2 separate regions of the Homo sapiens genome follow, and region 1 is linked to region 2. Evidence: fine-mapped expression QTL. A gene starts in region 2. The other region holds a variant in brackets. All regions are shown on one strand. Distances are between the middles of the regions.

Region 1 (8,000 bases), 22 kb before region 2:
GTAGAGTCATTCACAGTTTTAGAGAGTACCTAAAAAAAAAAAAAAAAAAGCTTACTATTAATTTTTTTTAAATGCCAAGTTACATATGAGTACACATTGAAAGGGTTAAAAGGAAGACGTGTTAAAAAAAATTCACACCTTTTACGTTTACATCAGTTGGTGTTTCATAAAGAAACTGATGACAGAAACAGCGGGTAAGGGGTGAAAACCAAGCAGCCTAGAGTAAGAGAAAAAAGACCTACAACAACCCACAGAAAAATCAAACATAGAAAAGGGAGATTCAGAGACAGAAAGGAAGCCAACAGAGCTTGGTAAAGGTGGTGTATCTCAGAGTATGGGTTTCTCTCTTTATGAATACCTTCAGTGACTGAATAAGCCAGCTTCCTAGGTTCAATTCATAATCATCCATGAGTTCATAACCATAATGAGTTGCTATACTCATTGTTATGATGGTGGTTTATTTTATAGGAAATAAGAAAGTTACTGTGCTGCCTTGAAGGAATTTTAATTCAAAAGACAAACACTTTTTAAAAAAGAAAAGAAAAACCTTTTCACACATCTCTAACTAGGTCATTATCATATGTGAGTAAGAATGACAAGAATTCACAAGCCCAGAGTTTCCCTAGTTTATAGTTTAGCTTAATGTGATATAACTTAAATATTTTTCAGACTACTTACTACCTTGAACTTGGATATAAAATATAGCCCATTTTCAGAAGTTTTATCTGTACCACATATATAAACAAAATCTAATTCATGAGATAGTCTTTAAAAAAATTACTTTGACTATATATAATAAAACGATATTATGAGTAAGCTCTGGATTATAAAAGTAACAACCAGAGGGCAAGTGGTTCAACATTAAGAGATTTTATTATAAAATGAGTGGTAATAAATTATCATTTGTTGGATAAATTCACTTTTAGACAATTTTTAAAATATATTCTGTAATCCCAGCACTTTGGGAGGCCGAGGCAGGTGGATCACCTGAGGTCAAGAGTTCGAGACCAGCCTGGCCAACATGGTGAAACCTGTCTCTACTGAAAATAACAAAAATTAGCCGGGCATGGTGGCGCATGCATGTAATCCCTGCTACTTGGGAGGCTGAGGCAGGAGAATCACTGGAACACAGGAGGCAGAGGTTGCACTGAGCTGAGATTGTGCCACTGCACTCCAGCCTGGGTGACAGAGCAAGACTCTGTCTCAAAAAAAAAAAAAAATGCAATTAATACAAGAAGTAAGGAAGAATATAAGATTATTCTATGAATCATATATTAGGTATTATATTCTGCTAAAGGCCCTTCCGTTCCTTGAATGTCATTGATGTATGATTGCTAAGGATCATCAGTTATCAAAAGCCATTAGTAGCTCACAGAAAATAAATGCAACTTAATTATGAGGCTAGTTTACATGCACACATATCCATAAATTTCACAAATAAGAATTTAGATTTTGCACGTTAATGTTACAAAAGCTCCAGATAATGAACAATGGATTATATGCCAAAAAGTTTTTCTCTGAGTCAAATTTATATAAATTATGAAAGACTCTCTACTATATCACTAAATGAGTGCATTTATTTATTTATTTATTTATTTATGAGATGCAGTCTCGATCTGTTGCCCAGGCTGGATTGCAGTGGCACAATCTTGGCTCATTGCAACCTTTGCCTCCTGGGTTCAAGTGATTCTCCTGCCTTAGCCTCCCGAATGGCTGGGATTACAGGCACGCACCACGATGCTTGGCTAATTTCTTGTCTTTTTGGTAGAGATGGGATTTCACCATGCTGGCCAGGCTGGTCTCGAACTCCTGACCTCGTGATCTGCCCACCTCAGCCTCCCAATGTGCTGGGATTACAGGCCTGAGCGACCATGCCGGCCTAAATGAGTGCTTTTAAAAACTAATATTCAGATGGCTATTTCTTGTGTCTCCAAAGATTTAATATTGGCATAAAGTTTACATAGGCATTTTTGCTTCAATAAAATATTTTCTTATACTTCAATAACATTCCCTTCCCAATAATTACTAAAAAAGAAAAATTCATCAGACTGAAAAACACATTTGATATCCTTTTCATAGTTATGGGTGGCCAGGTGGTTCTCATTTGTGCAGTAAATATCAAAGGCTTGAAGTACAGTGTTATAATATTTGGACAAGAGAGGATTGCTGGATGCTAAATTTTATTTTGAAATATGTGTCTCCAGAGCCTACTTTCTTTCAAGCTTTCCATATGGCTTATTGAGCCACATTACTTTTCATAGAATCAAAAATATAAAACATATGAAGCTTTAACAAGAAATGAGATTAATTACTGGTTATAGCTCTGTGAAATAAGTTACTGAGATAGTAAGAGAGATAAGTTATAACCAAGCATTATAACCAACATGACTGATAGCAAACAGGAGTAGAACTTACCCAATGTTAAAAATTTCCTTGCAACACAAACATATTTCCTTGAACAGTTTCAGCACTTAAGTTAATATAAAAATTAACTTGTTAACTAATGCAGTCATGCTTTTTGATTCAGCACCAGTAGTTTAAAGATTCTATTCCAAGGAAATCATTACATCTTCCCCCCTCTCTCCCCTTTATTGCTCCCCGATAGGTATGTATATTTTGGACATATACCTTCTTCTGGTGTTTGTGCTCTCAATGATTCACTCCAATCACTCCAACTTCCCTTATAAAGATGTAGCTTAGAGGAAATCTGAAATTCATATTCTGTAAATGGTTTCAGATCCAGCAAATCATGTCTTCCTTTGGCCTTTGTAACATTAACCTTGAAACAGACATTTTTTTAAAGTGCCTATTAATACTAGATTGCTAATTTAAGGAATTTTAACATAAAATGAAAAAAAAAAAACCCAGGCTATTTGATCTTATTTGTTTTTCAGACCTACCATTAAATGAGAAGAAATATCAGTGACTGTCTTACCGAATAGATATGATATTAATCTGAAATGATAGCATCTCATTAAAAATAAAACAAAATCTCTGGGTACTAAGAACCCATCTATGTAGGTTCTCGAGGGGAATCCTGAAACCAGCTGAAAAATAAGATTGAAAACTACAAAGTTTCTACACTAGAGATTATTTTTTATTTGATTACAATTAGGATGTGATGAATGTTTTAACACAAACATAGCACTGGCTTTTTTTTTTTTTAAAAAAACCCTTTAATTAGTTATACTCTCTTGAATATCAGCTATCTGTGGGACTGATCCTTTGTTATTATAAGCCATTGAATTTTACAACAATCCCGGAAAGAATCATAATCCTATACCTTTTATTTTAAAACATGCAATGCCTAATATTATATTAAATTGTAGACCTTTTCTTTGGAATATTAAATTCTATATAACTCTCTGTGGACATTTCTTAATATTTCTCTTTTCAATATCTTTTTTAAATGCTAAAAAATAATAACAGGACAGGGTAAATAATAAGGAGAAATGAATCCTCTGTTAGAAATAAACTATAGAAAATTAATATTGGTTTACAAAAGCTTTAAAAATTTCAGAATCAGAGATCAAAATTCAAGATATTTCTTAATCAACAGAGGCATACATGACTTTCTGATAATTCTCTCGTGTGTACTTTTGGGATAAATATTCTTAAACTCTATTTTTTGCTGTATGAAAAGACAGAGGTCTGCGCAGCAATATTAAGAATGCTTCAGTGTTTTTTCCTTCACTCTAAAGATAATTACCATATTCCAGAGCCTGCTGTTACTGGGCCGATATCTGAGTCGATTAAGCAGTACCAGTCCCTCATCTCTCCAATAAAGGGTACATCTGCTCAC[A/G]GAAGCCTTTTGAAATTTGATTCTAATGTCCCACGGAGGAAGAGGCCTCACTAGTAACCAGGACAAACAAAAAAGTGTGGTTCAGGATCTGTGATCAGCAATTGTCTTATGTACTGGCATGAGCTATAAAGAGTTTGACAAAACTCAGTTCTGAGATGCACAACCATCAAATTTGGTAAAATATACAAGAGAAAAGTTCCAGGCTTTAAGAAAGAACTTTTTTAAAAGCTGGATTCACTTCTGAATCTTTAAAATAATCCCCCTTAATCAAATCTCATTTTCACCAAATAACTACTACCAACATTAGTGGTAAGTTTCAACTACACTTAGTCCAGTGGTTTTTCAAAAACCAATGTGCCAAACCCAAGAGTTCCAATGACTGAGAAGCCAGAGACGGCTAGTGATGACTGCCTCAGGAGGAGAAGAAATGTTCGTAGGAAAATTCATAGCAAAGGGACAGAGGAAAAGAACAAGGGGGCGAGAAGGTAGCCTAGAGATGAACGGTCTATGAAAGAAATGGGAGGAAGCCTGAGAAGAAATATGGTGGAAAAGTGTATAGTAAATGCCAATGATCAGACTCATCGTTAGCAATATGTATGCAGAGAAGTGCCATGGAAAGAGAGGCGAGAAGCACATAGTGTGAGGTTGGAACTTCAGGCAGCCCAGTTCTGCCTGGATGGTCAGAACTTGGAATGCTTGAGATTGGCCTCTGATTCAACTGGACCGATTACATTTGCTCAGAAATGTACTGGCTCACTCCAGGGATGGAGGTGAGTATTCTCAGAGCAAGATGCATCTGTGACTTGAGAAATTTTATTTATAGTTTGTACCTCGCTGCTCTAGCCTAGCAGGCCCACATGTAGCCTATCTCACAACAATGGGAGTAGCCATGGGGGCGAAAGGACACCTCCTCCAAGAAGGGCTTGCACTGAGCATCTTGAATGACCTCACAGGACCCTCTCCTCAGTCAGGTGGTATCATTAGTAGCTGGTTCTTTCATGGGATTTGAATCCAGGGGCTAATTTCTTCAATAGAGAGAATAATGTTGAACATCCCACTTTGTATAGCCATCTTTAGATAGCTCAGAATAATGCACCCTTTTACTTGCATCAAAGTAACTTCTATCTTTTGCTTATGCCTGTTGGCCAATTTCCATCAATCTCTGTCTTTCTTGAAACAACCATATAAAAAAGATTTGAGTGATTTTAAAAATAATTATAAAGTACCAATGAAACAGTGAAATAAAATGTACCTATGTCCAAGAATGTGAATGTGGATGGAAGTGAAGAGGAGCTTCCAAGACTATTGACAGCAGTAACCTTGGCTGTGAAATTGGATTCAGGTGATTCAGGGGTGAGGTTGATTCCAAAGTCCAAATAGTCACAATAAATGTCTTTACATTGCTTCTGCCAGGTTAAATTTTTTGGTCCACTTAGCCTGTAAACAAAACACAACCACGTGTAGCAACATGTTTTATGTGCTACTTTCTACTTACAGTAGAAAAGAACAAAATGTTTAAATATTTAGAATTCTAGACAATTTTTAAAGGTCAATCTTATGACTAGGGGATACACCCCGGGAATATTTGTACTATATGGTCATGTAAGACTATACTTCACCCAACTCCCTTTTTTGGTAGAACTGAGATGTTCTTCCACATTCATGTAGATAGGTAACCAAGCCTACGCTGCTGAAATTCCCCAAACCCTGCTTGTCATCTTGGCTCCCCAGGGCAGTTCCAAACATTATCCTAAGCACTGTGGCCACCTTGACATCTGTGGCACAGAATTGTCAGTTCCTAGTACAGCAGTGGCCAGAGTAGAATCCTGGGCTATTTTACCCTAATACTGAGACCCGCGTGTCAATAGATGTTTCCTTTAGGTTAGAAAAAGTAAATGTACTACAGAACCCCTCCTTTCCTCCATCTCCTCCTCACTCAGGAATAGCACAAATCAGCTGGATCTTTAATGGGATCATGAAATCTACTTCAAGGAACAGAATCTCCCAGACTCTCTCTTCTCATGGACTCTTAGGTCAGCCAATGGTGCTTTAAAAAGAAACTTATCCAAGCGAATGGGAAACTACCACAAGGAAGAGTTTATTTATGTATCATGACCCCAAGAGCCTACAGCTGCAGAAAAGAGAAGCGATCTTATGCAGCCAGTTTAACCCTACTAGAGTGGGAAAGAACAGCTATAACTTGGATCTTGGATGCACTGAAGAGAACTCTGAGTTAGAACTCAGACCCAAGACATTCGGTCTCTCATACTGTAGATGAATGAACCAGTTTTAACTATAAACATAGAAACTCTTTAAAAAGTATCTAATTGTCTAGAAGTATCTATTGCTTCTCCTTTCTGGTAAAAATAAAACAGATAGGCCGGGCACCGTGGCTCACACCTGTAATCCCAGCACTTTGGGAGGCTGAGGCGGGTGGATCACGAGGTCAAGAGATCGAGACCATCCTGGCCAACATGGTGAAACCCCGTCTCTGCTAAAAATACAAAAATTAGCTGGGCGTGGTGGTGGGTGCCTGTAATCCCAGCCACTCAGGAGGCTGAGGCAGGAGAATCACTTGAACCCAGGAAGCAGAGGTTGCAGTGAGCCGAGATTGCGCCACTGCACTCTAGCCTGGTGACAGAGTGAGATTCCGTCTCAAAATAAATAAATAAATAAATAAATAAATAAATAAAATAAAATAAAAATAAATAAAGAAAACAGATATTTCTAAATGTCATTTAAGAGAAGATCTACAAAACAGCTGCAAAAATACAGCCTCTCACTCACTGTAGAGTATACTCAGTGTATAAGTGGGTGTCTCGTCCTCTTTCCCAGGTGCAGGCCACAGTCCCCTGTTCTCCCTTCTGTATGCAGGATAAATTTTGAGGCTGTTCTGGAGCAACTTTAAAAAGAAAAGACAAAACCTTATATATCACACAGGTGATATTTCAACCGAATTGTTATTATCTGCCATCAACATGACAATACGTCCCCCACATGCCGTAAACCCAGGTAAACTAGAAGCTATTTTAGATTCCATTCAAGTCCCAGTTTGCCATTAAGGTGTAAATTTCTCCTAGAAACAGTAATAATAGTAGTGAATATGGATCAAATACTATATGCCTAGCCCAGTGCTATGTGCAGTTTTTCTGAATTAGACAGCGTAGCACCCCATGAGGTAGATACTATTATTATATTTTTTTTCAGAGAGGAAACTGAGAGAGGTGAAATATCTGGCCCAAGATCATAAAATTATGAAGTGGCAGATTCAAGGCTCCAGCTCAGCTGTAACTCAAGTCCAAGCCTTTTACTCCATATTCTACCATTTTCCCTGACAGGTGAACATCCAGTGCTAGCTCCATTACCCCTGGTAATAATAAATTAATTTCTTTTAGAGTGATGCCCATTCAAATATTAGAAACCTTTAAAAATGAGAGACTTATTTGCTTTCTTCACCTGATATTTGCTGTCAAGACACTTACACCCAGTTGCCTCAGTCATGTCCTCCCGGGCTATACCATCTAAATCTAATTTCTGCATTGTCTCTTGGAGCACTTTATGGACATTTATAAATTAATTCTTTTGTGTACATAGGCATTGAGTACCTCCCACGAGCCAAGCACAGTGCTAGATGTGGAAATACAAAGATGTACAAAGCAAGCATGGTCCCTTCTATTGTAAGGTGTGTATTTTTAAATAAAGCTATTTTATGGTGAAAGGACCCAAACTAGGAATTTTTTGGACAAAATGGAGGTAAGAGAAATACTCAGCTATTCAGTCATCCCATTTTACCCTAATACCCAGACCCACGTGTAGATACATATTTCCTTTAGGTTAGATAAAATGAGTATACTACAGAAGTCCTAGCTATTGTCTACACTGAAAAAATCTGTTATTGATTAAATAAATATCTTTTTTGTCCTTAGCATCCACCATAGACATAGGCACAGGAATGCCCACTGTGTGACCTTGGACAAGTCAGAGCTTCAGTTGAATCTATAAAATGGGTATAATGATATCTAGCTCATATAGTTTTAATAGAATAATAAACTTTTCCTTTAAAAAAGTCTCTTTTCGCTGGATGCGGTGGCTCACGCCTGTAATCCCAACAATTTGGGAGGCTGAGGTGGGCAGATCACTTGAAGTTAGGAGTTTGAGACTAGCTTGGCCAACATGGTGAAACCTCTTCTTTACTTAA
Region 2 (13,195 bases):
ATATACAGACAACACTTCAGAGGTCATTTATTCCCGACTTTACAAATGGATCACCGTGACCTAGAAAAAAAGAGGGGACTTGCTCAAGTTCACATTAATAGCAAAATCCAGATCAGAACCTCAGTCTCTCTCTCTCTCTCTTTCTCTCTGATGCAGTCTCGTTCTGTCACCCAGGCTGGAGTGCAATGGCACCATCTTGGATCACTGCAACCTCCACCTCCTGGGTTCAAGCGATTCTCTTGCCTCAACCTCCTGAGCAGCTGGGACTATAAGCATGCGCCACCACACCTGGCTAGCTAATTTTTGTATTTTTAGTAGAGATGGGGTTTTACCATGTTGGCCAGGCTGGTCTTGAACTGACCTCAGGTGATCTGCCTGCCTCGGCCTCCCACAGTGCTGAGATTACAGGCATGAGCCACCGTGCCCGGCCAGTCTCCTGATTTCTAATCCAACATCACTTCTAGATGTGAGGCTGCTTGTAATCAATAGCAACAGTAGCAGCATAATACTAAAAATAATGCTAATCTTAACACTATACTAATACTAATGCTGCAATTTTTTGATCTCTTACTATGTTTCAGGCACGATGCTAGGCACCTTACATACAATCTTTATGATATCTATCTAGTAAAGCATTTATAATGCCTAATGCTTTACTCTTCAGAAGGTTGACTCATTACTTCTGAGGCCCACCTCCCTCAAAAGAGGATGAAACAACAAAACTCAGCGCACATACAATATGTAACCGTATCTGATGCTATTCCACTATGGTGATGGAAAAGGATAATCAAATCAAGTTACCAATTAGCTAACCTTCTCTTCTTCATGAAATTTCCTGAGTTATGGTCATGAAAATGAACTGTTTTTCATTCCAAGTCTACCATTTGGTGAAAGAATGTAACAAGCCATTACATGGGCAAAAGCCCGTCTATCAGGCCCCATCATCAAACCGGCCCCATTCATAATGTCATGGTAAATGGCTTGAAGGGGAAGGAAAGTAAAATGCATAACCTTTTCTACTTTTTCTTCTTTCTATTCAATAGTCCAAGCACTGTTTACATGAGCCAAATTTAACACACACACTTGTTTTCCTTTTTGTGCAGCTGACGAGGCTGCCTGGAATTTTCTCTAATTTCATTGGTAAGCATTTGCTGTCCTATGGTTCCTCTTTAATTTCACCCAAGTACAGGAACTTTCTTTTCTTGCTCAAATTCAGGAGACTTCCGAATTTTTGTTCCTTTTTTTTTTTTTTTAAATTCAATGTGTTTTCTCCTTTCCCTCTTTATGGCTTTTTTTTTTTCTTAACTTCCTTTATTCTTTTCTCTCTTCTTTTCCTATTTTTTCTGGAATGTTGTTTCTGTCAATTCTGTTTGTCTTTATTTCCATTTTAGATACATCCCATTTGACATAATAGACTCCTGAAATGTTGTGCGTAAACAAATCAGAGTTGAAATGAATTTATCCCACCCCAACCCCTCAATCATCTGTACTGAGAACTATTTTATCCTATAGATTGAACAAGCATTTCTCCAATATAACAGTAAAAAGAAAGAAAGAAACAAGATACGAATGGAGTCTTGGAGAAACAAGACACTTTCAAATAAACTACATGACCTCTTTTCTTTCTTTGAATAGCTCCCATAAGCCTAAAACTTTCATGGCAAGTGTTCAATAAAGCTTCGGAAACTCCAGCCTTCTCTGATTCACTCTCTGTATCCTGCTAGGCCTATCGATAAAATAAGCTGTCTTCTATTGGGAAGGATGATGTGCTGGAAAGAGGCCCCGGGCACCATCCTTGGTTCCTCCATTTCTGCCTCTGTCACCATGGCAGGTAACTTCATACTTCAAAGCCTCCTTTCCTTATTTTAAAAATAGCAATTGACCTTTATTGAGAAAACTAAACCTCTTTCACTAACTTTTCTTCCTTAGTGTATTGGAAAGGTTTTTTCTTTGACATCCTCAATCTGGAAGTCTCTGTTTGTGGACAATGGCAGGAGGTTTATCTTTGGATCTTGGGTATTGCAAAGTCCTGGCCAAGTTTTGCTTCACCTTGTAAGCAACCACTGAGTATTTTCATAAAGTACTACAAGGCATTAACATATTAAGATAATTGCATTGTTTTGAGAATTTTCTAAGAATTTCACAATTATCTTAAGATAATTGGAGGCACACTTGGGAGGGGAATTAAAAAACTAAGGGTAGTGATCACCATGCCACAATGTTTCCCCAGGTTTCTCATATAAATTAAGAATTCAGCTGAAGTCTCTACACTAACAACCCTCCATCTCAGTATCTCCTGATATTTTACTTAATGTGTTGCTTTTCCTGCATATCATTGCAAAATAGAGGTTAATTAAGATTCTAATTTTAACAATCTTTTGTAGGCATTTACTTAGTAGTTTATCACTGTGCAAAGCATATAATTTAGTTGTTAATATTTGGTCAAATACATAAAGTAATGATTAGTATCCTATTCTACAGATAGAAAAATCTGTAAGTTGACCAAGATAACCCAGAAAAACCACACATAAATCCAGAATTGGATTCGAATTACATTCTATGCTTCCCTTCTCCATGAGCACCTGAGAAATAAAAATCCAAGCTTGATGCTCTGTTAGTCTAACTGCTTTCCCTCTTCTATCGGTTTAAATTCTGCAGGAACAGGCTTACCCCTCTCATTTATTCTCAGCATGCCTCAGGGCTCCCATGTTAAACCCACAAAGCTACTACCTCCAAGAGGCATTGAACCATGTTTACGCTCATCACCTCAGTCCAAGCTCCCAGAAGAGCCTCCTGAGCAACTGTAGTAGTAATGAAAAGAGCAGTGGATCCGCCCAGGACACCTAAGTCTTGGCTCGGATAATTCCAGCTATATGGCCTGTGACAAATCACTTGACCACTCAGCCTAAGTTCCTTCATCTGTAAAAAGGGAATACAAACAGCACCTACTGGACGGACGTGGTGACTCACACCTGTAATCCTAGCACTTTGGGAGGCTGAGGCGGGCAGATCACGAGGTCAAGAGATCGAGACCATCCTAACCAACATGGTGAAACTCCGTCTGTACTAAAAATACAAAAATTAGCTGGGCATACTGGTGTGCGCCTGTAATCCCAGCTATTTGGGAGGCTGAGGCAGGAGAATCACCTGAACCCGGGAGGCAGAGGTTGCAGTGAGCCAAGATCGCACCACTGCACTCCAGCCTGGCGACAGCAAGACTCCGTCTCAAAAACAAAAAACAAACAAACAAAAAACCAGCACCTATCTCACAGGATTGTTGGGAGGGTTAAATGACAAGCTGTTAGCAGAGTACCTGGTATATAGCAAGAGCTCAATCAATGTTACCTGCTATTATTATAAGAAAAAAGGCAGTATTACTTCTTTTCAGTGACACTACGAGAATTAAGTTAGATGGCCTTGCTTTTGACTCCTCTCTTTGCCCATTCATCTGATTTAACACTGAAAGACTGATTTGATTAAAACTAGATTCCATACCTCCTAACTTCATGCCACCTATCATTTAAGACATATTAAGTATTCTCAAAATTTTCCCAAACAATTTTGACTTCGTAGGTCATGAACTGGGCCTTACATTTCTTTATATTCACTAAGTCTAAGTCCAGCAAATGCACTGACCATAATGTACATGTTCAATACTTATTTGGAAAACAAAAACAAAAACAAACCACTGTTACACTAGCGAAGAACACTAGAAACTTCCAAGGGCAAAGGAAATTGTATAAGACTTCCTTTGGGATTTGGCTTTTTTTTTTTTTTTTTTTTTTTTTGAGATGAAGTTTCATTCTTGTCGCCCAGGCTGGAGTGCAGTGGCGTGATCTCTGCTCACTGCAACCTCTGCCTCCCGGGTTCAATCGATTCTCCTGTCTCAACCTCCCGAGTAGCTGGGATTACCATGCCACATGGTGTGTGCCACCATGCCCCGCTAATTTTTGTGTTTTCAGTAGAGACAGGGTTTCGCCATGTTGGTCAGGCTAGTCTCAAACTCCTGACCTCAGGTGATCCCCCCACCTCGGCCTCCCAAAGTGCTGGGATTACAGGTATGAGACACCGTGTCCCGCCATTCTGCACAAATTTATTTGTAGGAGTTGACAGCAGTGCTGTGAGCGTAATTACAAAGATGACAAATAATTTGGTAGAGAACAAAGCAGGTGCAGCAATACAAAAATAAGTCCACAACTGAGAAATGATGCCCAATACCTACTGTACTTGGCGGATTCTTCTACCTTAAAAATTACATGTGTGCTTTCGAATTTTTTTTCACACTAAAACTCATTCTAATACAGAAAAGATTCCGTTTGTCAAAGTTTGGGAATTTATCAGCCTATGTAATGAACATGACATTCAAGAGGCATGACATATGGAAAAGAGCATATTGCAAACTTTTCTGGAGGCTGTTGTGCCTAACAGATAGTGTAATGTATTGAGGATTTCACATTAAAATAGGGAAGGAAAGTGTTAGCTCTTAGCCACTAAGGTCCTTTTAGTTATGTGTTGGACAGAGAAATAGGGCACTGTACCATTCCTATTAATGGAAAATGAGAATCCAACGTTTGTTTGTTCAAGTGGAGGTGGTTATAAGGTTCTGAGCCAGAGAGGTGGAAACAGAAGGAACACAGTTTTGAGCCAGAAACCTGTAACTCTCTAACTGTGTGAAACATGTAAGTTTCCACATCTGTAAAATGGGAATACTAATAACAATTTCACCATGTTTTTAAGGAATTAGATAATATATATCCAAAAACCAAATACATAGTAGGTGCTCAACAAAGATGTTCATCTACACAGAGCACACACATAGCAGATTATAACAATTATCTAGAGTTTTAAAAATGGGGAAAAAAGGACTAATTTAGCTTTATTCTTTATATATATATGTGTATGTGTGTGTGTGTATATATATATATATGTATATGTATGTATGTATTTATTTTTAAGACAGAGTCTCGCTCTGTTGCCCAGGTTGGAGTGCAGTGGCCCCATCTTGGCTCACTGTAACCTCTGTCTCCCGGGTTCAAGCAATTCTCCTGCCTCAGTCTCCCGAGTAGCTGGGATTACAGGTGTGCGTCATCATGCCCAGCTAATTTTCGTATTTTTAATAGAGACAGGGTTTCACCATGTTGGCCAGGCTGGTCTTGAACTCCTGACCTCAAGTGATCTGCCCACCTTGGCCTCCCAAAATGCTGGGATTACAGGCGTGAGCCACCGTGCCGGGACCCTGTTCTTAGACAAGGTCTATTTGTATGCTTTTAGGTTACTATTTGTAAGACCTGGATCTAATGGTACAGATACATAATCCCGTACAATGCTGACACTGATATTTAGTGTGTCCTAGGGAGATGAGGAGGGCCTCATAGTTCACAAAGGAAGGGGCATTTCACAGAAGAGAAAACTGAGGCTGGCCAATTTGCTTGCACCAGAGCATCTTGCTAGTAACTGGCCAGGCAGGGACTCGGGGTCAGTCCAGAGGCCACAGGAAAGACTGCTGAGACAAGGTTAGTTCACCCTCATCCGGGACTACGGAAGGCCCCCCCCAATATCTTACTCACATTTGATACATTTTCAAGCAACGGGAGCCACGTCTGTGGGCCTGAACCAAGGCTGGACCCTCAGGGGTGCCCTCTGCCCTTTTCCAGTCGCCGTCCCCTCCCTTCCGTTTGAGCCCACCACTCTGTGCCCCGGCCCAGAGAGTACCTTGGAGGCTCAGTCCGCGCGCTCCCTCCCCTCCATCCAGCCAAACCACCACCCAGTACCTCCAAGTGAACATCTGTGCCCAGGGCGTTAGGACTGTGATGAAGAGAAGCCATTTCGGATCGTATTGGAAGACTTTAAAAATATATATATACATATATATATATAAAGAGAGAAGCCGTCGCCGAAGCCCCCTCGGGAGACGCGAGACACGGAATCCCGGGCACGCAGACACCCCGCTGGTCCGGGATCCTGGGGCTCTCTCTGTCCCCGACCCCGAGTCACTGGTCACTCACCACGTGTCGCCTGCCAGCGGGCGCGGTCCCGGGCCTGCGGGGACCGGGTGGCCCCGGTGCTCTGGGCCGCACGTGTCGCGCTCTCCGCGCTCTCTGCCGGCGCTCGGGCGTTCCCGGTGCCAGCGCCCGCCCTCCCGCCTCCGCCTCCCGCCTCTGCGCCACCAACTCCGGGGTGGGCGCGGGGAGCTGGCGGCGAGTGAGGATCGGGCCGGGGCGGGGGTCGGGGCTGGGCGGTGGCCGCAGGGCGGAGAGGACTCGCTTCTCAGTTCAGCTCTGGAAGCGCAGCCGGGCGGGCGCCCGTGGTTTCCACCCCGCGGGTCGAAGCGGGCTCGGGTGGGATTCTGCCACCTGTGGGCTCTGCTGTGTCGCCTTGAGCAAGATAATTCTCTCTCCACCGTCAGTTTCCCCTCATATAAAATGCGGATAATAAAGCCTGTCTCATAAGACGGAGCAAGGGTTGACCGAGGTGAGGTGCGTTTATGCACCAAGATATGATAGGCGCGATAAAATCGTGTGCTCAGCGTTCACAGCCATAGAGACGTGGCACTTTGTTGACAGCCATCAGGGAACTTTCCTCGCAGATGTCCTTTCTCTGTGCTCTGCACCGCCCAGCTCTTACCACACCTGAGCGCCGAGGCCTCCCAAGTGGGCTGTGCACAAGACCGCCCACTGGAGTGCGGGCAGAACATACTGGAACTTCCATTTGTATTTGCTGTCTAAAAAATGAGAAAAAAGTTAAACTTGAACAGATGGCGTGTCACCACTCCCGTATAGGTCCCGTGTTATAAGTGGTGTTCTCAGGCAAGAGGGAAAACTGCCCAGAGTACAGAGGGGTCGGCAGCTCTGCATAATATTCATGACATAATATTTATGACAATATTACTTAGAAAAAAACTGTATTTAAACCTGTAAAGACAGACTCTCACTCTGTTACCCAGGCTGGTCTCAAACTTCTGGCCTCAAGCAATCCTCCCGCCTTGGCTTCCCAAAGTGCAGGGAATACAGGCCTGAGCCTCTGCACCCGTCAGCTTAGATTTCTTTAAATCTAAGACTTCCTTAATTATAAGATATACCATTATTTATGCGCTAGTAAGAAATAAAAAGAACTGCCAGGTAAACAATAACAATGCTTTCTCAACATTTAGAATCTTTTAAACTAAAATTTTATTTAGTTTAGAGATTTTATTTAGATATCTCTAAATAAAATTTAGATTTTAAACATATGTATATTATCTATCGAATTTTTTTTTAAGTCCCCCCCCCTCCCCCACCCCGTTGTCTCTGGAGTTTTCTTCTAGTCCACTGAGCCCAGTACAGGTTTGCTGAGCCCGCAGAAGTGGACAACTGCATACCACGCTTCTGGGCATTACCTTAAAACCGCTCTCAATGTTTGAGATGTTAAATATGAAAAATGTACATCTTGGAATCAACAATGTACAGTAGATTGTCTTTATGGGATTGTGACATACTGTAGTTTACATGCTTTAGTAATTTATCTACATGAATAATTTTACTAAAATCTTTTAAATCGTAGAATCTAGAATCTTAATATTACTTTGTAATGAGATGATACATAATTGTAGAAATCATTTGTAACAAAGATTTTAAAAGTTGTCTTAAAGTGAGTTATTTTCTTTATTTTTACAAAAAAACCCCAAATATCCTAAATTTGCTGATCTTTTCTGTATTGATATATGGCTCTCAGTACATGTTATCTAATAGATCTTTTTGAAGAACAAAAAACCCCAGAGGTTTATTTGTTGTTTCTTCAAGGTAATTTTCACACCAAGTGATACGTTGTTATGAAGAGACGATTTGAAAACAAATATTTCGAAGTGTTCCCATTATTGTGTGTTTTTCTTACTGAAGATTTTATGATTGTCATCACAGAAAATGCTTTTAAAAACTCGGAAACAATTTGCTATTTTGTTTCAATCTTTTAATTGAGCAGTTCAGTGGATTTTAAATCCATTTGTTAAAAAATATAAAAATGCAGCAGCTTCTCATTACTTTAAAAACTGATTGATATCAAGAATAAGATTATGATAGCCAAATGTTATAACAATCTTGCATAATTCATGGATTTTTCAACACTTTTTAGTGAGAAGGAAGGCTTTTAGTTTTGTTAATAAATCAATAATTTCAAAAATGCATTTTACTCTATCTCATTTAAAAATTTAATTTATATATTTGTGTGTGCATATGTGTGTGTGTGTATATACACACATATAAATATACATATGTTTTTCTGTTTTTTTTTTTTTGAAACAGCGTCTCACTCTGTTGCCCCGGCTAGAGTACAGTGGCACAATTTCAGCTCACTGCAACCTCCACCTCCCGGGTTCAAGTGATTCTCCTGCCTCAGCCTCCTGAGTAGCTGGGACTACAGGCACGCGCCACCATGCCCGGCTAATTTTTGTATTTATAGTAGAGATGGGGTTTCACCATATTGGCCAGGCTGGTCTCAAACTCCTGACCTCGTGATCTGCCCACCTCAGCCTCCCAAAGTGCTGGGATTACAGGCGTGAGCCACCGCGCCCGGCATACATATGTTTTTCAAGGAAATAAAAAAACAACCAAACATATGTTGGGGATGTTTCTCAAAAATGCTTTTTTTTTTTTTCTGAAGGAGTATACCATCTAAAATGTTGAAAGACCACTGCTCTATTAACTTCTAATGGCAGCATCTTACAAAATTGCAGAAGTCAGACACAAAATGGTGTCTCAAATGCATCTAAGGCATATTCTTTGAGGGAACAGATGAGAGCTGTTGAGGAAAGAACTTGAATCTGGTTGTTAAGCAAGCACAACAAATTATGAGAATACAGTAAGATGCAGGTAGCAATGATAATCTTCTTTATTCTCTTCTTTTCCCTAGATGCAAGAAAAAAAAAGTCAGAAGATGACAACTCTTACATAAGTATTATTTGAGAAATTATCATGCTCTAGGTCCATCAGTATATTGTTTAACTTAGACTTACATTATCAAGTGAAGACTTGCACTGATTGCCATTGATAACAGTGGTTCTCTTATCCTGCATGCTCCCTGGATTATAAACTCTATGCACGCAAGGATCCCTCATCTTCAGCATCTGGCACACTGAGTGGTACAGGGCAGGTAGTCAATAAGTATTTACTGAGTTGAACTGACTTGTTCTGGAGAGATCCCATTCTTTTTGGCCAGTTCAACGGGATTGTAGGTGTTGTTCAATCTTCACACTTTTCGACAGTTAAAAATTAGTTGGAAAATTAAATATAATTTTTCTTAGCAAGTCGGTAACCTTTCTGTATGAAATCACCATCTGTAGAGGCCTTTCTATTTCCCCACTTCTTTTTTCTGCCTTCTCCTCCTATTAATATCTGGGAGTTTCACTAATACAGGCATGGCTTTTGTCAGTGGTTGCCTGTCTAGTTAGAGAAAAAAACAAAAACAAAAATAACAATGAAAACAAAAATAACAACAAAGACAAACTTGCTTCTGTGCTTTCTAAAGAATAAACCCTAGATGGTAGACGATGCCTGATGAAGCAAGAGCCTAATATACAACCCAAAATGTCAACTGTGATTGTTAATGTAATCATTTTTAAGTCTATGGGTATGATATGGTCTTCTGTGTAGCTGTTAGGTAAATGAATGTACTTGTAAATCAAAAGCTCAATTAAGTGGATAACCACAGTGACAGTGACAAAGTCTTTTCTAGGAAATACTAGTTCAGTTTCCATTTCTGGTATAGTTCCATTACTTTAAATGTCTAATTTGGTTCATTGCTGATACCAAACACCCTGAAAATACGTAATCACACTATTCTATGAATAACTGAGATGTGCTTTTCCTAAAGTGTCACTTGTCAGGATAAATACTAGGAGGTGGTTGCTAACATAGTCATTTAGGGCATCAAATGAATGCTGGCACTCGTTAAACTTGGTAAGACGGTTTTAACATCATTTTAAACTTTTACTTATAATGAGAAAACTCAGAATCTAAGATTAACTGTTCAACCTTAACTGCTTCATTTTGTAAAAGTTTCATTTCTAAAAGTTATTACTTTGTTAGTTTTACTCATCTCTCCAAAGTATTAAACTTATAGGACAGCAACATAACTCCTGAATATATTTGTAGTGTTATGTATTGAAAAAGTTTATATAAAATTAAAATAGTGCAATACCAGATTCTCAGATTATGAATAATCTCCATAATTCTTAAAATGTAGACTTATACCTTCTCCACAACTGACATTTAACAAGCACAAACATTGTTTATAGAGGAACAAACTGGCCAGGCTCAGTGGCTCATACATATAATCTCAGCATTTTGGGAGGCTGAAGCAGGTGGATCACCTGAGGTCAGGAGTTCAAGACCAGCCTGGCCAAAATGGAGAAATCCCATCTCTGTTGAACATACAAAACTTAGCCAGGCATGGTGGCACTCACCTGTAATCCCAGCTACTCAGGAGGCTGAGGCAGGAGAATGGCTTGAACCCGGGAGTCAGAGGTTGCAGTGAGCCAAGATGGCACCATTGCACTCCAGCCTGGGCAACAGAGCAAGACTCTGTCCAAAAAAAAAAAAAAAAAAGATGAACAAACCACATGGAAATTGCCATGTCTTGGAGAGCAGCAGTGCGTTTTTGAGAGGTCTTTAGATTGCTGGATGCCTTGTTAAATGAACATAAAGGTTAAAGAGTAAAGTGAGACATGAGGTAAATTTAAAGCTGTGATAGCTGCAGGGTCCTACACAACATAAACTTTATTCACAAACTGGCTCTGCTATTCTTAGCAGCTAAATCTAAACATATGTTACAGGATTCACAGATTCCATCATGTCATGGCTGGTTACCTGATCATCAGAGCCAGAACTTTTGGTGGTGCAAAACTTTGGCAAGTTCTTATAAAAAGGAGAGTGATTTGCATAAAAGGCAAATTTCTCACAAACATTCCCACATAAAACCACACATATGTTCCTCATTTTTGTTGTCGTTGTTGTTTGTTTGTTTTTGGTTTGTTGTAGAGTACATCAACAGAAGCCCTATGAGAAGTACTCTGAAATGTGGATGTATAATCATTAAGATTCTTTTCTACATTCCACTCTTCTGGCTTCAAATGTCCTTTTTTTCCATGCTTCTCATACATAGAAAATACTCTGATTTCCCAAATGAGACAACCCAAAGTCCTGTCCAGTCATGGCATCCAGCTGAGATCCAAGCTCTCTGAAAAATGAGCAGTGGTGGCTACCTAGTGAGATATGCCTCCTCTGGGTCCACAGCCTATAAACAAACAAGTAAAAAACCCAGGTTACCTGCACCTCCCACCTCGCCCTGCCCCGCTCCAAGGATATAAAATGGTGGAACAGGGACAATGAATGCTCAGCTTAGGAAACAGAGAAGCATGTGACACACCAGAAGTCACTGGTCCAAAGTACCACTGTCTTCAGTGGTGAATGCATTAGTTTTTTTATTTTGGCCTGTAGGACCTCTGCTAAAGAGGCAGGAAGAATCTCAATTAAGTATCCTTTTCTACAAATCAAACACTGCAGAGTAGTATCAAATGTTAATAATATTTCCTTTCCCCTCCAGTCTCTCCTTCCCAAATAATAGTTTTACGAGAATCTTTCCACATTTTTCTTCATGCCTTTATAGACGTATAAAAGCGTTTTAGGTTTTTCTTTTATATTTAAGCCATACAGAAAATATATTCTAGGTTTAAACAAATTGAGCTATTCTATTTCCCTATCTGTCCATCCATCTATCTTTCGTTTTCCTTTTACCACATGACACAAACTTCATTCCATAATGCACGTAGTAGCGCTCTCATTTTTTTTCTTTTTTCCTCTCTCTCTTTTTTTTTTTTTTTTTTTTTTTTTAGACAGAGTCTCACTCTGTTGCCCAGGCTGGAGTGCAGTGGCACGATCTCAGCTCACTGCAGCCTCCGCCTCCTGGGTTCAAATGATTCTCCTGCCTCAGCTCTCAAGTAGCTGGGACTACAGGCATGTGCCACCACACCCTGCTAATTTTTGTATTTTGTATTTTTAGTAGAGCCTCGGCCTCCCAAAAGTGCTGGGATTACAGGCATGAGCCACCGTGCCTGGCCTCATTTTTTTTTTCAATAGCTACAAGTATTCCATACCATGCATGTACTAAGATTTAGTCAACCATTCTCTTATTTACAGGTCTTCAGGTTTCTAATTCCCACCTGCCCCCTTGTCTCCCCCAAAATGCAGCATATTCACCAAAATAAAAATATTCTTACACATATACTTGTACAAATATATGGTGCTTTTATTTGTGGGTAACATAATCTCACATGTAGCTTGTTGAATCAAAGGATATGAGCTTTTTCTCTTTAATGGATTATGCCACATTACTATCCAAATTATAGTAATTCATACTTCCACTAGCATGCCACATTATCACTAATAGTGAATGCTATAAATCTTCTGTAATTATCAATCTATCAATCTAACATGTAAAAAATGATATTTCATTGCCTTACACTGTGTATCTTTGACTGCAAACATCTTCTCATATGTCTGATAGTTTAAAAATATGTATTATTATTCATCTATCACAGTCTACCTTCAAATAGTAGGCCAGTTTATGTATAATACAAAAACTTTACAACAGTATGCTTCTATCCTTATATCTTTTGTACTATTTGATTGTACATTTTACTTTCATTTATGTTTTAAGCCCCATGATACATTATTACTATTTTTGCTTTACTTAGTTATCTTTTAAAAAATTAAAAAATATAAAACCCAAAATTTTCTATATTTCCTCATATATTTACAATTGCAAGTGCTATTTATTCCTTTGTATAGATCAAAGTTTCCAGCCGGTATCATTTCCCTTCAGCCTAAAGAACTTATTTTAATATTTCCTATAGGACAGGTCTGCTCTTGACAAACTTTCTTAGCTTTTGTGTTCTTAAAAATTGTTTTATTTTGCCTTCATTTTTGAAGAATTTTTTTTACTGTATGTAAAATTCTAGGTTTACTTCTCCTCCTCCCAGCATATTAAACATATTATTTCATAGTTTTCTGGCTTGCATCGTTTCTGTTGAGAAGTCAGTGTTAAGTCTAATCTTGCATTCCTGTAATTTTTTTTCTCTTAATGCCTTTCAGATCTCCTTATAATGGACTTTCAACTATTATATTATGATGTGCCTTGGTGTGGTTTCCTTTGTGTTTATTCTGCT

What was found.
Region 1: its variant is fine-mapped to the expression of IL12RB2 in blood mononuclear cells (TOPMed, PIP 0.94).

Annotation. Positions count from the first base shown.
Region 1 is chr1:67,325,439-67,333,438 of GRCh38, reverse strand. It overlaps IL12RB2 (interleukin 12 receptor subunit beta 2), which reads right to left. Exons shown (of 17, transcript NM_001374259.2): 5 at 6,590-6,704; 6 at 5,055-5,239; 7 at 3,710-3,852; 8 at 2,629-2,779. Among named protein-coding and RNA genes, the nearest start is that of IL12RB2, 22 kb to the right of the region's middle. The variant A/G (reference allele first, on the strand shown) is at 3,803.
Region 2 is chr1:67,300,778-67,313,972 of GRCh38, reverse strand. It overlaps IL12RB2 (interleukin 12 receptor subunit beta 2), which reads right to left and starts at 6,100. Exons shown (of 17, transcript NM_001374259.2): 1 at 6,006-6,100; 2 at 1-60. RefSeq lists a silencer at 6,048-6,237 and enhancers at 6,698-6,747, 6,778-6,877.